Linked DNA regions of Homo sapiens: region 1 is linked to region 2. The links come from fine-mapping of genetic effects on gene expression. A gene starts in region 2. The other region holds a variant in brackets. All regions are shown on one strand. Distances are from middle to middle.

The links. PIP is the estimated chance that this variant, and not a neighbour inherited with it, causes the effect. A credible set is the group of variants that fine-mapping cannot tell apart.
Region 1: its variant is the best candidate, but not a certain one, in a credible set for the expression of P3H3 in nucleus accumbens (GTEx, PIP 0.73).

What each region holds. Positions count from the first base shown.
Region 1 is chr12:7,494,747-7,500,116 of GRCh38, forward strand. CD163 (CD163 molecule) reads right to left here. Exons shown (of 17, transcript NM_203416.4): 4 at 4,122-4,442; 5 at 2,067-2,387; 6 at 335-655. LOC124902870 (a long non-coding RNA gene) reads left to right here. Exons shown (of 2, transcript XR_007063197.1): 2 at 282-508. Among named protein-coding and RNA genes, the nearest start is that of CD163, 6.3 kb to the right of the region's middle. RefSeq lists an enhancer at 2,802-3,303. The variant T/G (reference allele first, on the strand shown) is at 3,197.
Region 2 is chr12:6,825,519-6,830,848 of GRCh38, forward strand. It overlaps P3H3 (prolyl 3-hydroxylase 3), which reads left to right and starts at 2,889. Exons shown (of 15, transcript NM_014262.5): 1 at 2,889-3,420; 2 at 4,341-4,493; 3 at 4,835-5,036; 4 at 5,121-5,252. The coding sequence starts at 2,923. It overlaps GPR162 (G protein-coupled receptor 162), which reads left to right. Exons shown (of 5, transcript NM_019858.2): 3 at 1-155; 4 at 678-835; 5 at 1,135-1,903. The coding sequence ends at 1,686. RefSeq lists enhancers at 1,546-2,114, 3,272-3,773, 3,512-3,571, 3,821-4,356 and a silencer at 3,252-3,361.

The DNA.
Region 1 (5,370 bases), 670 kb after region 2:
GTCAGTTTATCTAACATGGTTATTTTTTAAATCTTTTGGTGACATCCTGTGAAAGAAATATTGAATTCTATTTTTTAAATTTTAATCCTCCTTAATCTTATACCTCTATTGATCTAAAAATTACTCAAAAACCAAAGTGAGCAAAACCCAAACACTTCTATCTAAAGTGCAACATGAATTGTAAACTTATCTGACTCTCCCAGTGGAATTTGTGTAGATATTTCCTGGTTTCTTGAGAGTGATCTAGTCATAAGGACCAATGTTTCTTTTCAATTTCAAAGGTAGTACTGGAAATTTACACCCTTCTTCTTAACAAGTTGATTGAAAGTCATACCTGAGCAGGTAATTTTGGCTTCTTCATAGTGATCACAGGTAAGTCCACCCCATTGCCAGTTCTTGCAGTCCCAAAGAGAAGTTTCATTTCCGTTACAGCTACTTAGAAACAGCCATGTGTTTGTTGCCTGGATTTTGGAGTACACTTGATAAGATGTTTTGAGTGCAGATCCACATCCCAGCTGCCTGCAAACCACATCAGCTTCTTTCAGTCCCCAGCCTCTGTCACACACCTTCCCTAACAGTCTCTGAATCTCCACCTCAACTGTCCCAGCACAGCGGCTGCCTCCACCTCTAAGTCTTAGCTCCAGATCTGATCCATCTGCAAAAGAAACATAAACTTAAACCATCGATACATATGGAGGTTAGCTTCCAGAGGATTTTTTTTTGTCTTTTTTCTTCTCTGATACTGATGCATTGAAAATTATAGGTAACTTATTTCCTGACTTTTTAAGAAACAATAATATAGACCATAAATTTTTGTTAGAAATGGGACTGTAGTTTCAAGGGTTGATAAAAATTGTCAATGGCAGAAAGATATGAGCAATTCAGCTTTAAAAGAGATTCCTCAAAAAGTGGGTGAAGGGTATGAACAGACACTTCTGAAAAGAAGGCATTTATGCGGACAACAAACATATGAAAAATAGCTTATCAACAATGGTCATTAGAGAAATGCAAATCAAAATCACAATGAGATACCATCTCATCCCAGTTAGAATGGCGATCATTAAAAAGTCTGGAAACAACAGATGTTGGCAAGGATGTAGAGAAATAGGAAAGCTTTTACACTGTTGGTGGGAGTGTAAATTAGTTCAACCATTATGGAAGACAGTGTGGTGATTCCTCAAGGATCTAGAACTAGAAATACCATTTGACCCAGCGATCCCATTACTGGGTATATACCCAAAGGATTATAAATCATTCTACTATAAAGACACATGCACATGTATGTTTATTGCAGCACTATCTACAATAACAAAGACTTGGAACCAACCCAAATGCCCATCAATAATAGACTGGATAAAGAAAATGTGGTACATATACACCATGGAATACTACGCAGCCATAAAAAAGAATGAGTTTATGTCCTTTGAAGGGACACAGATGAAGCTAGAAACCATCATCCTCAGCAAACTAACACACAAGAACAGAAAACCAAACACTGCATGTTCTCACTCATAACTGGGAGTTGAACAATGAGAACACACGGACACAGGGAGGGGAACATCACACACTGGGGCCTGTCAATGGGTGGGGGGAAAGGGGAGGGAGAGCATTAGGACAAATACCTAATGCATGGGGGGTTAAAACCTAGATGACAGGTTGATACGTGAAGCAGACCACCATGGAACATGTTTACCCATGTAACAAACCTGCACATTCAACACATCTATCCCAGAACTTAAAGTAAAAAAATAAGTAAATTAAAAAAATTTAAAAACAGATTCCTAGGAAATTTTGTCTCTCTGAGCTCCAGGTAGATTCTGAGTTTGAAGTGTGCTCCATAAAAGCAGTCTGAGTAATTATTACAGAGAATGCCGTCAGACAACCTTCCAAACTAGTTGAATAAAGAATGTGTCAAAGATTACAGGTATAAAGGAATTCCCAGCAAGGAATTTACTAGGCATTTCTACTTCTTAAGGAGCACGTTCCTACTCTTAAGGAGCACAGGACTTTCCGTTTCTGCTTTTCTTTTTGTTTAGTGTTTTGGTTTTGGTTTGGTTTTAACTTACCAGAACATGTCACGCCAGCATCTTCATTGTGATTGCAATAATGCTTTCCCCATTCATGGTGTTTACATTGCCAGATAGCAGGTTCATGTCCCTGGCAAGAAACGCTGTCAAGCCAGATGTGTCCAAATCCCTTACTGGCGTTAACTCGACCAATGGCTGTGACGGCAGTTGGACATCCCAGTTGCTTGCATGCCACAGCAGCATCGTAACTGTCCCAGCCGTCATCACATATTGTCCCCCATTCTCCTTGGAATCTCACTTCTAATCTTCCTGAACATTCAGTGACTCCATCTACCAGTCTCAGGCTCAGATCTGCTCCCTCTGTAACAGAGACACACAACAGGTCTGCGATAAGGAAGCAAGAACATGAGACTATAAATAGCTATACCTGAGATGAGTTAAGGAAAAGGGGAGAGATATAAGTGGAGACAGAGAAAACTGTGATGTACTGTACTACCACTGGAAATCATTCAAGATGGAAGGAGGAGTGGATCAGGCAAGAAGATGGGACATCTCAGTATAGACAGCATATACTACAGGAAGTGTTTCTAACAGGAGATACAGGGACTGAATTTCATCTAGAGACCTGCTATTTGACCACCACAGAGTTCTTGTTAGAACTGTTTACTTTTTCTGGTTAAAATATATTTGCATGTGTTTAGGTGACTCCCTCATCCTTCAGTTTGCCTCCATACTTAGCAATCCCTTTTGCCTCTGACTGCATTCTCCATTGATACTACCTAGCCTGTGTTGTACACCTGAACCTGTTGTGACCACTTCCTTAGTTTAAAAGCAGAGCAAAGAGAAAGGAGGCTTCAGTACTACAATTTTCACCTTCCCCAAATCAATATTCTTCAAAGAACAGACGTTGATTCTGAAGAATATTCTGTAATAAATTAAACTGGTTGTTTCCTCTGGCAGTTTCCGTTTTCATTCCCACAATGTTATTCATTGTGGGATTGTGATTCGTCAGCATGTGCTAACTGGGGGCCTAGAGAAATGTTGATGGGTAAAAGAGAATGGAAGGTACAGTCTGTGTTTTTTCTACTCCAAATTCTTCACATTCTTAACCTAACAAAATCTATCTTTCTTGTAGGAGTTCCATTCATTGTGGTTCAGGCTATAGCTGA[T/G]CACATTGTTCAACAAGAAAAAGCTTGTTCAAGACATGCAGAAAGAGATAGAACCCAGATGACATTGTTCAAGAACCTGAATCCAACCATGCATGAGGCTAACTATACCCTCTGGATTTCCCAGTTTTGTGAGCCAGTATTCTCTTCTTTTTAAACAAGTTTGAATGGAAGTTCCTTTATTTACACACACACACACACACACACAGAGAGAGAGAGAGAGAGAGAGAAAGGGATCTGGTGAAGATAGGGATTTTTTACTCTTATTTTCCTAAGTGTTCTCTGGGGTTCAAGACACACTCAATCTCCTTTTATACTAAGAATTCAACAGAAAAACGAAGAGTGGTATCTCTGCACACACAAACGATTTTCCCCGCCCCCAGTCTGAGTATACAACGTGAAAGTCTCTAGACAGATACAATGCATATCTAGTATAAATAAAGTTTTAATGAGAAACCAATATTGATTTTTAACAAGTGATTCGATTCTGTGAACTTGAAAAATGATTTGGGAAGGAGTGGGTTAATGAGGCTAATGAGGAGGCTTTTGTGGATTAGATGATAACTGGAGTGGTTTGGTCATAAAACTTCATAGTGCAAAATATCCTAGTAAAGCCCTTCCTTCTTTCCTTTTTCCCCTCTTTTTCTTTTCGGTCTCTCCCTTTCTTTATGGGCTTTTCCTAAACACTTTCTTCTTTTCTTATGACCTGGATCTCAGTTTCACTATGCACTTCCCTAACCTATTTCTCCTAATTTCAGTTAAGGTAAAAAGTCCACAGGTATCAGAACTGGAACCTGAAGTTAGGTTAAAATGCGGTGACAAAAGAAGCAGACTTCATTATGTTCTTAAGAGTTCAGGCTCTTAAGATTTATTACCCCTTTCTTTTGTCCTCTCCTGGAGAATAGAATGAGCCAAGATCAGTCCTTACTTGAGCAAATCACTCCAGCATCCTCAGCATGATCACAGTTATGCTTTCCCCATCCTTGATGTTTGCAGTTCCAGAGAGCTGACTCATTTCCGTTGCATATAAGATCATCAAACCAGATTGGTCCAGAGCCTTCTCCAAAATTAGATGAACCAGAGAAACTGACAGCACTTCCACATTCAAGTTGTCTACAAATGACAGATGCATGATCTATGTTGAAGTTATCATCACACACTGTTCCCCACCGTCCTTGGAATTTGATCTCTATTCTTCCAGAACACATATTCCCTCCACGCGTCAGCCTCATTTCCAAATTGGATCCATCTGGAGCAGAGAAAAGACCAGAGTTCAGAAGTTACATTCATTTAGAAGTGATTTTAGAAAAGAAGTTTCCTCTGGACACTTGGGATTTTATGTTGTCCTTAAAATGGTGCCTGATTTTGGACATTGCCCAGCTCCACACGGTAGAGAATTTTAATATGTTAAAATCTAGGAAGCAATTAGGATTTTTATCTATATCTACTTACAAAGGAAAATGTTTACAGGTTAAAGTTTTTAAACTTTCTGTTTTGTTTTGTTTCCATCTATTACTAGGACAGATGTAAATACTCTTTTTTGTACAGAAATAGATAAATTCGACTCAAGTTATTTAAATTTGACTCAGGTTAAAGCTTTAAGTGTATAAATTTCAAAAAGCAAATTGATTAACTCCACTGGTAGTTATAAAACAACAGAAAAAAAGAGCTAAAAGTACTACACTGTTTTAGCTAAACAGCCAGTTCTATACACAGCAATAATTATGATAAGAGCCTGCTAAAATTTATGATAATTTTAAACTTTGCAGTAGATGTTACTTTTGTTATTCCCCATTTCACACCTCCCATAGTGGTTAAAAATAAGAGGAAAGAAGGAGGAGAAGGAGGAGAAGGAAGAGGAAGAGGAAGCGGAGAAAGAAGAAAGAGAACTGAGTCACCAAGAGAACTGAGCCATGAGGATCTTCAGCACCTGTTACATACCAAACAGTGTACCAGTAGTTTTACATGTATTATATCATTGAATCCTCAGAAACTGAAGTTTAGAGAGATTTGACAACTTGCACAAAATCACAGGATATTAGCTATGTGAAAATTTATTTCAGCATTTTTCTAGATGCTACTGTGTGTTTCTCTTATCACATCATGATGCCTGGACAGAGATAAGTCCTTTCTATAGTCAGTCCTATGGGAGAGAGAGAGGCTGGGAGGTGAGAGGA
Region 2 (5,330 bases):
GCCCCCCTGGATGGTGCTGGCTGTGCTGTGGTGCTCCATGGCACAGACGCTGCTGCTGCCCTCCTTCATCTGGTCCTGCGAGCGCTACCGCGCCGACGTGCGCACAGTGTGGGAGCAATGCGTGGCCATCATGTCTGAGGAGGATGGAGATGACGGTCAGAGGAGGGGCTGGGCTTTGGCTTTCCTGGACATCTGTCTATTCCCTTTTCTGCCGCTCCTTCTCAGCCAGAGGATGGGCTGCCCTGGAGTGCCCCCTACTGGACAGAATCTGCACCACCCTGGGCTCCCCTTTCCCTAAGCAGGCACCCTGCTGTCCACTCACTGCTTCCCGCAGCACTCAGGGCTCCCTTCACTGGGCCTAGGCTCCCCTCCAGAAACCCACACTGCCCAGCTCTGGCACTATGGGGAACCTGAGCTTCCCGAGAGAGGCCCCCCAGCTATAGGGACGGCTCTTGGGGGAGTGCAGGCAATTGTTTCAATAACTTCATCTATATGTATGAAGCACTCCACTCAGGATTTAGCACTGAACGCAGCAAATGCTAGCCACTCTCACTGTCCTCTTGGAACATACATGCTAATGGGAACTAAAGGGGTCTCTGGGAGCTTATAAAGGCAGTGGTGGGAGGCCGCGGTAGGCATTCCCTACCTGTAACCACTCTGCCCATTTTCTCTCCTAGATGGGGGCTGTGACGACTATGCAGAGGGCCGAGTTTGCAAAGTTCGCTTTGATGCTAACGGAGCCACAGGACCAGGGAGCCGGGACCCCGCCCAGGTGAAGCTGCTGCCTGGAAGGCACATGCTCTTCCCTCCTCTTGAGAGAGTCCACTACTTACAGGTATGGAACTGGGGGATACATCTCCTACCCTTGGTGCCGCTCATCACTTTTCTCCAGTGTCTGTTAGGCACCCCAATCCCCTCTTCCCTAGCCCTGGCTTTCAGGGCACCATAGAGCTGGGTGAAAGAAAGCTATAGCAAGAGAGGCATCCCTTCAGACCTCGTGGGGCCAGGTTTGCCCACCGGAGCAAACGTTTTGAAGGTTAAGAAGGTGGCACCATCTTCCGGAGTCCCCACTTGGTTCCTGCCTCTGCCTCTGTCCCTGCAGCACCTTCAGGTCTTACCCGCTCCTCTTCCCAGGTCCCCCTATCCCGGCGTCTGTCCCATGATGAGACAAACATCTTCTCTACCCCTCGGGAACCAGGCTCCTTCCTGCACAAGTGGTCATCCTCTGATGACATCCGGGTCCTCCCAGCCCAGAGCCGGGCCCTCGGGGGTCCTCCTGAGTACCTGGGACAAAGACACAGGTTGGAGGACGAGGAGGACGAGGAAGAGGCTGAAGGTGGGGGGCTGGCCAGCCTTCGCCAATTCTTGGAGAGTGGGGTTCTGGGGTCAGGTGGGGGACCCCCACGGGGTCCTGGCTTCTTCCGGGAGGAGATCACCACCTTCATCGATGAGACACCTCTGCCTTCTCCGACTGCCTCACCAGGGCACTCTCCTCGTCGGCCCCGGCCACTGGGCCTCTCACCCCGCCGACTCTCCCTTGGGTCCCCTGAGAGCAGAGCCGTTGGACTTCCTTTGGGACTAAGCGCAGGGAGACGCTGCTCCCTGACGGGGGGTGAAGAAAGTGCAAGGGCTTGGGGAGGATCCTGGGGCCCAGGCAACCCCATCTTTCCCCAGCTGACCCTGTGAGCCCAAGCAGGCCTGCTGAACTCAGAGGAGAAAGCCTGAGTGAGTAACACCTCATTCTGGCCGAGAGTAGGGCAGCTGCCTCCAGACTCTGGGGAGACGGGCGCTAGATTTGGGGCTCAGAAGGCCCTGCTCTCTCCCATCCAAGTGACCAGATGCCCTACTCAGCTTCCATCACCCCTAGCAATATGTATTAAAGTCTGAAGTGTTGCCATGGAAACCTCAGTGTCCAGTGTACTGCGGTGGAAAGGGGCTTGGAGGGTGGAGTGGCTCACAGGGGACACGACAGAGCAGGGGCAGCAGACAGAGGCACAGAAGGACACATGGAGAAATGATCACATGCTCCACCAGGCAGCCTCGCACAGGGAAGGCTGGGAGGAGCATATCCTGCTGGGGGCGGGGCTTGAGGACACACATCTTCGTTGGTTGGGGTATGAAGGATCTCTGTTCAGATTTGTTGAGGTGGTTTTAGAGCGTGGCTCCAGCCCCAGTGCCCAACTCTCCTTCTAACCTCAAATCCATGCAGGGGCTCACTTTATGGGCAGGAAAGGTTTTGGGGCTGATGCAGTGTCCCGGGCCTGGACACCTCCTCCTTGCTGCATTTTAAAGCTCTTTCTCCAAAGGAGTGCAGGGGTGGATGAGTGTGTGTGTGGGCGGGGGTGGGAGTGCAGGGGTGGATGAGTGTGTGTGTGGGGGAGTGCAGGGGTGGATGAGTGTGTGGGGGGGGTGGGAGTGCAGGGGTGGATGAGTGTGGGGGGGTGGGAGTGCAGGGGTGGATGAGTGTGGGGGGGTGGGGGGGGGCGAGGGGGGGATCGGCGTCCACACTCCTTTTTCTGGACCCAGAAGCGTGTGTGTGGAGGGAACACAGCCCCAGTAGTTACCCCCAGACCTCAGGGGCTGAAGTCACCGCTGGGGCTGAAGTCATCCTTCATGGATGCCCAGGCCTGCTCCAGTTCCCGCCTTTTGCCCTCCTCCTCCCAGTTTCTCCCTCTTATTCCACACTAGACCAGCTTTGTCCACTCAGCACTCTTCTCTCTCCATCTTTTCACATGGGCCTCTCCCACCATCGGGTCTCAGCCCCATCTTCTCTCTCTCTCTCTCTCTCGGCCTCCCTCATTATTTCTCCCTCTCCCTCCGCCTCTCCATCTCTCCTTCCTCCCCCTCCCTCCCCTTCCCCCCTTTCCTCTCCCTCCCTCTCGGCTCCCGCATTTCCCCTCGGCTGCCGGCGGCTCCGACATCATGCTCCGGCTCCTCCGGCCGCTGCTGCTACTGCTGCTGCTGCCTCCCCCGGGGTCCCCTGAGCCCCCCGGCCTGACCCAGCTGTCCCCGGGGGCGCCCCCGCAGGCCCCCGACTTGCTCTACGCTGACGGGCTGCGCGCCTACGCGGCCGGGGCTTGGGCGCCGGCCGTGGCGCTGCTGCGGGAGGCGCTGCGGAGCCAGGCGGCGCTGGGCCGGGTGCGGCTGGATTGCGGGGCGAGCTGCGCGGCCGATCCGGGCGCCGCGCTCCCCGCCGTGCTTCTCGGGGCCCCGGAGCCCGACTCCGGGCCGGGACCCACGCAGGGGTCCTGGGAGCGACAGCTTCTCCGTGCAGCGCTCCGCCGCGCAGACTGCCTGACCCAGTGCGCAGCACGGAGGCTGGGCCCCGGGGGCGCGGCGCGGCTTCGCGTGGGGAGCGCGCTCCGGGACGCCTTCCGCCGTCGGGAGCCCTACAACTACCTGCAGAGGGCCTATTACCAGGTGGGGAGCGGGCCGGGCAGCTCCGAGGGTCCCAGCCCTCACCACGACGCTGTCCTACTTTGCGTTGCCCAGGAGTAGGCGGAATGCTGTTGCCCGGGCCCCGCACGGGGCTGGGGAGCGTACCGCGGGCCTCTGCGTAGGAGCTGGCTAAGCGACCGCGAGGACCTCTTGAGATCGCAGAGGAGCAGCCGAGGGGGAGTGCGAGCAGAATGGGAATGGGGCGGGGAGGTCGTGAGGTGGGACGGGAGCAGATCGAAGATGGAGGGACAGGGCCGCCTCTTCCTAGGAATGAAGCGGAGGCGGTGGGGGCGAAACCGGCTCTCGGACGGGAAGTGTGCGTGGGTGTGTGTGTGTGTCGGGGGTGGTGGTGAGTGTGAACCTTCGCTTGGGGCAGGAGGTAGCTTCGGAAAGGAAGGAGCAGACGGAGGCAAGGTTGGGGTCCTCCGAGGCCAGACCTCTGCGGGCGGGGAGGGGACAGCACGCCGCAGCCGCCGGTACCGCAGCAGTTGCCTACGTGGCTGGGGAAGCGGGGCGCCGGTTGTACTCACCTCAGCTCAGGGTCCTAGAGACCTGCGGGTTTTGCTGGTCGCTGAGGTCTCCCCCACTTCCCCACCTCACTTAAGCCATCACTTCCACCTGGTCTCCCAAATTGAGGTCCTGAAGTCCTGAGACCCATGTCCCACCCAACTCCGACGTCTTTAGATCCCCTTTCCCTCGGTGCCAGCCTTCTGAGAGTCCCAACGTTCTGGCCTCTAGGGGATCTGCAGTTCGGGCGGTGGGCGGTTCTGATTGGCCAGTCTTCCATGAGGCTCTGGGGCACCCAGAGTGTGTGTCTGGGGTAGGGTGGGGAGGCTGGCCAGGGGGCAGAGGTCTGCCCCCCGTCCCAGGGCTCTGATGCCCTCCTCCCTTCGCCTCCTCAGTTGAAGAAGCTGGATCTGGCAGCTGCGGCAGCACACACCTTCTTTGTAGCAAACCCCATGCACCTGCAGATGCGGGAGGACATGGCTAAGTACAGACGAATGTCGGGAGTTCGGCCCCAGAGCTTCCGGGACCTGGAGACGCCCCCACACTGGGTGAGAATCCCAGCACCACCCCTGTCTTGCCACCAGCCTTTTCCTGGCTGGATACACAGGCCTCACTAAACTGTGCGTTGTGCTGCTTGAGCATACAGATGGGGTAATGATCCTCAGCGACCCTGGCTGGGAGTCCTTCTCTAGGACTTCGTTTCCTTCCTGGATGATCACTGAAATCTGATGTTCTAACATTATGATTCTGAGGCCCACCCTTATTCTTCTCCACGGTGAAGAGGGACATGGAGTCCTTGCCCCAAATGAGACCAACACCCCTCTCCTCTCTACCTCCCAGTTTGGCAACCCCTGGATCTTAGGTGACTGACTGCTCCCTTCCCCAACAGGCAGCCTATGACACTGGCCTGGAGCTACTGGGGCGCCAGGAGGCAGGACTGGCACTGCCCAGGCTAGAGGAGGCTCTTCAGGGGAGCCTGGCCCAGATGGAGAGCTGCCGTGCTGACTGTGAGGGGCCTGAGGAGCAGCAGGGGGCTGAAGAAGAGGAGGATGGGGCTGCGAGCCAGGGGGGCCTCTATGAGGCCATTGCAGGTAAGGGTCCCGTGTGTGAGGGGGTGGGTCGGTGCCCAGGGAGGGGCATGAACAAGCTGAATGGCTTATGGGTTTCCTCTGCAGGACACTGGATTCAGGTCCTGCAGTGCCGGCAACGCTGTGTGGGGGAAACAGCCACACGCCCTGGTCGCAGCTTCCCTGTCCCAGACTTCCTTCCCAACCAGCTGAGGCGGCTACATGAGGCCCATGCTCAGGGTCAGTTGGGGAAGGGTGGAAACGGGGAGTGAAGATTTGCCTCTGCTGCTATCCTGAGCTCCATCTCTCTATCCCTCC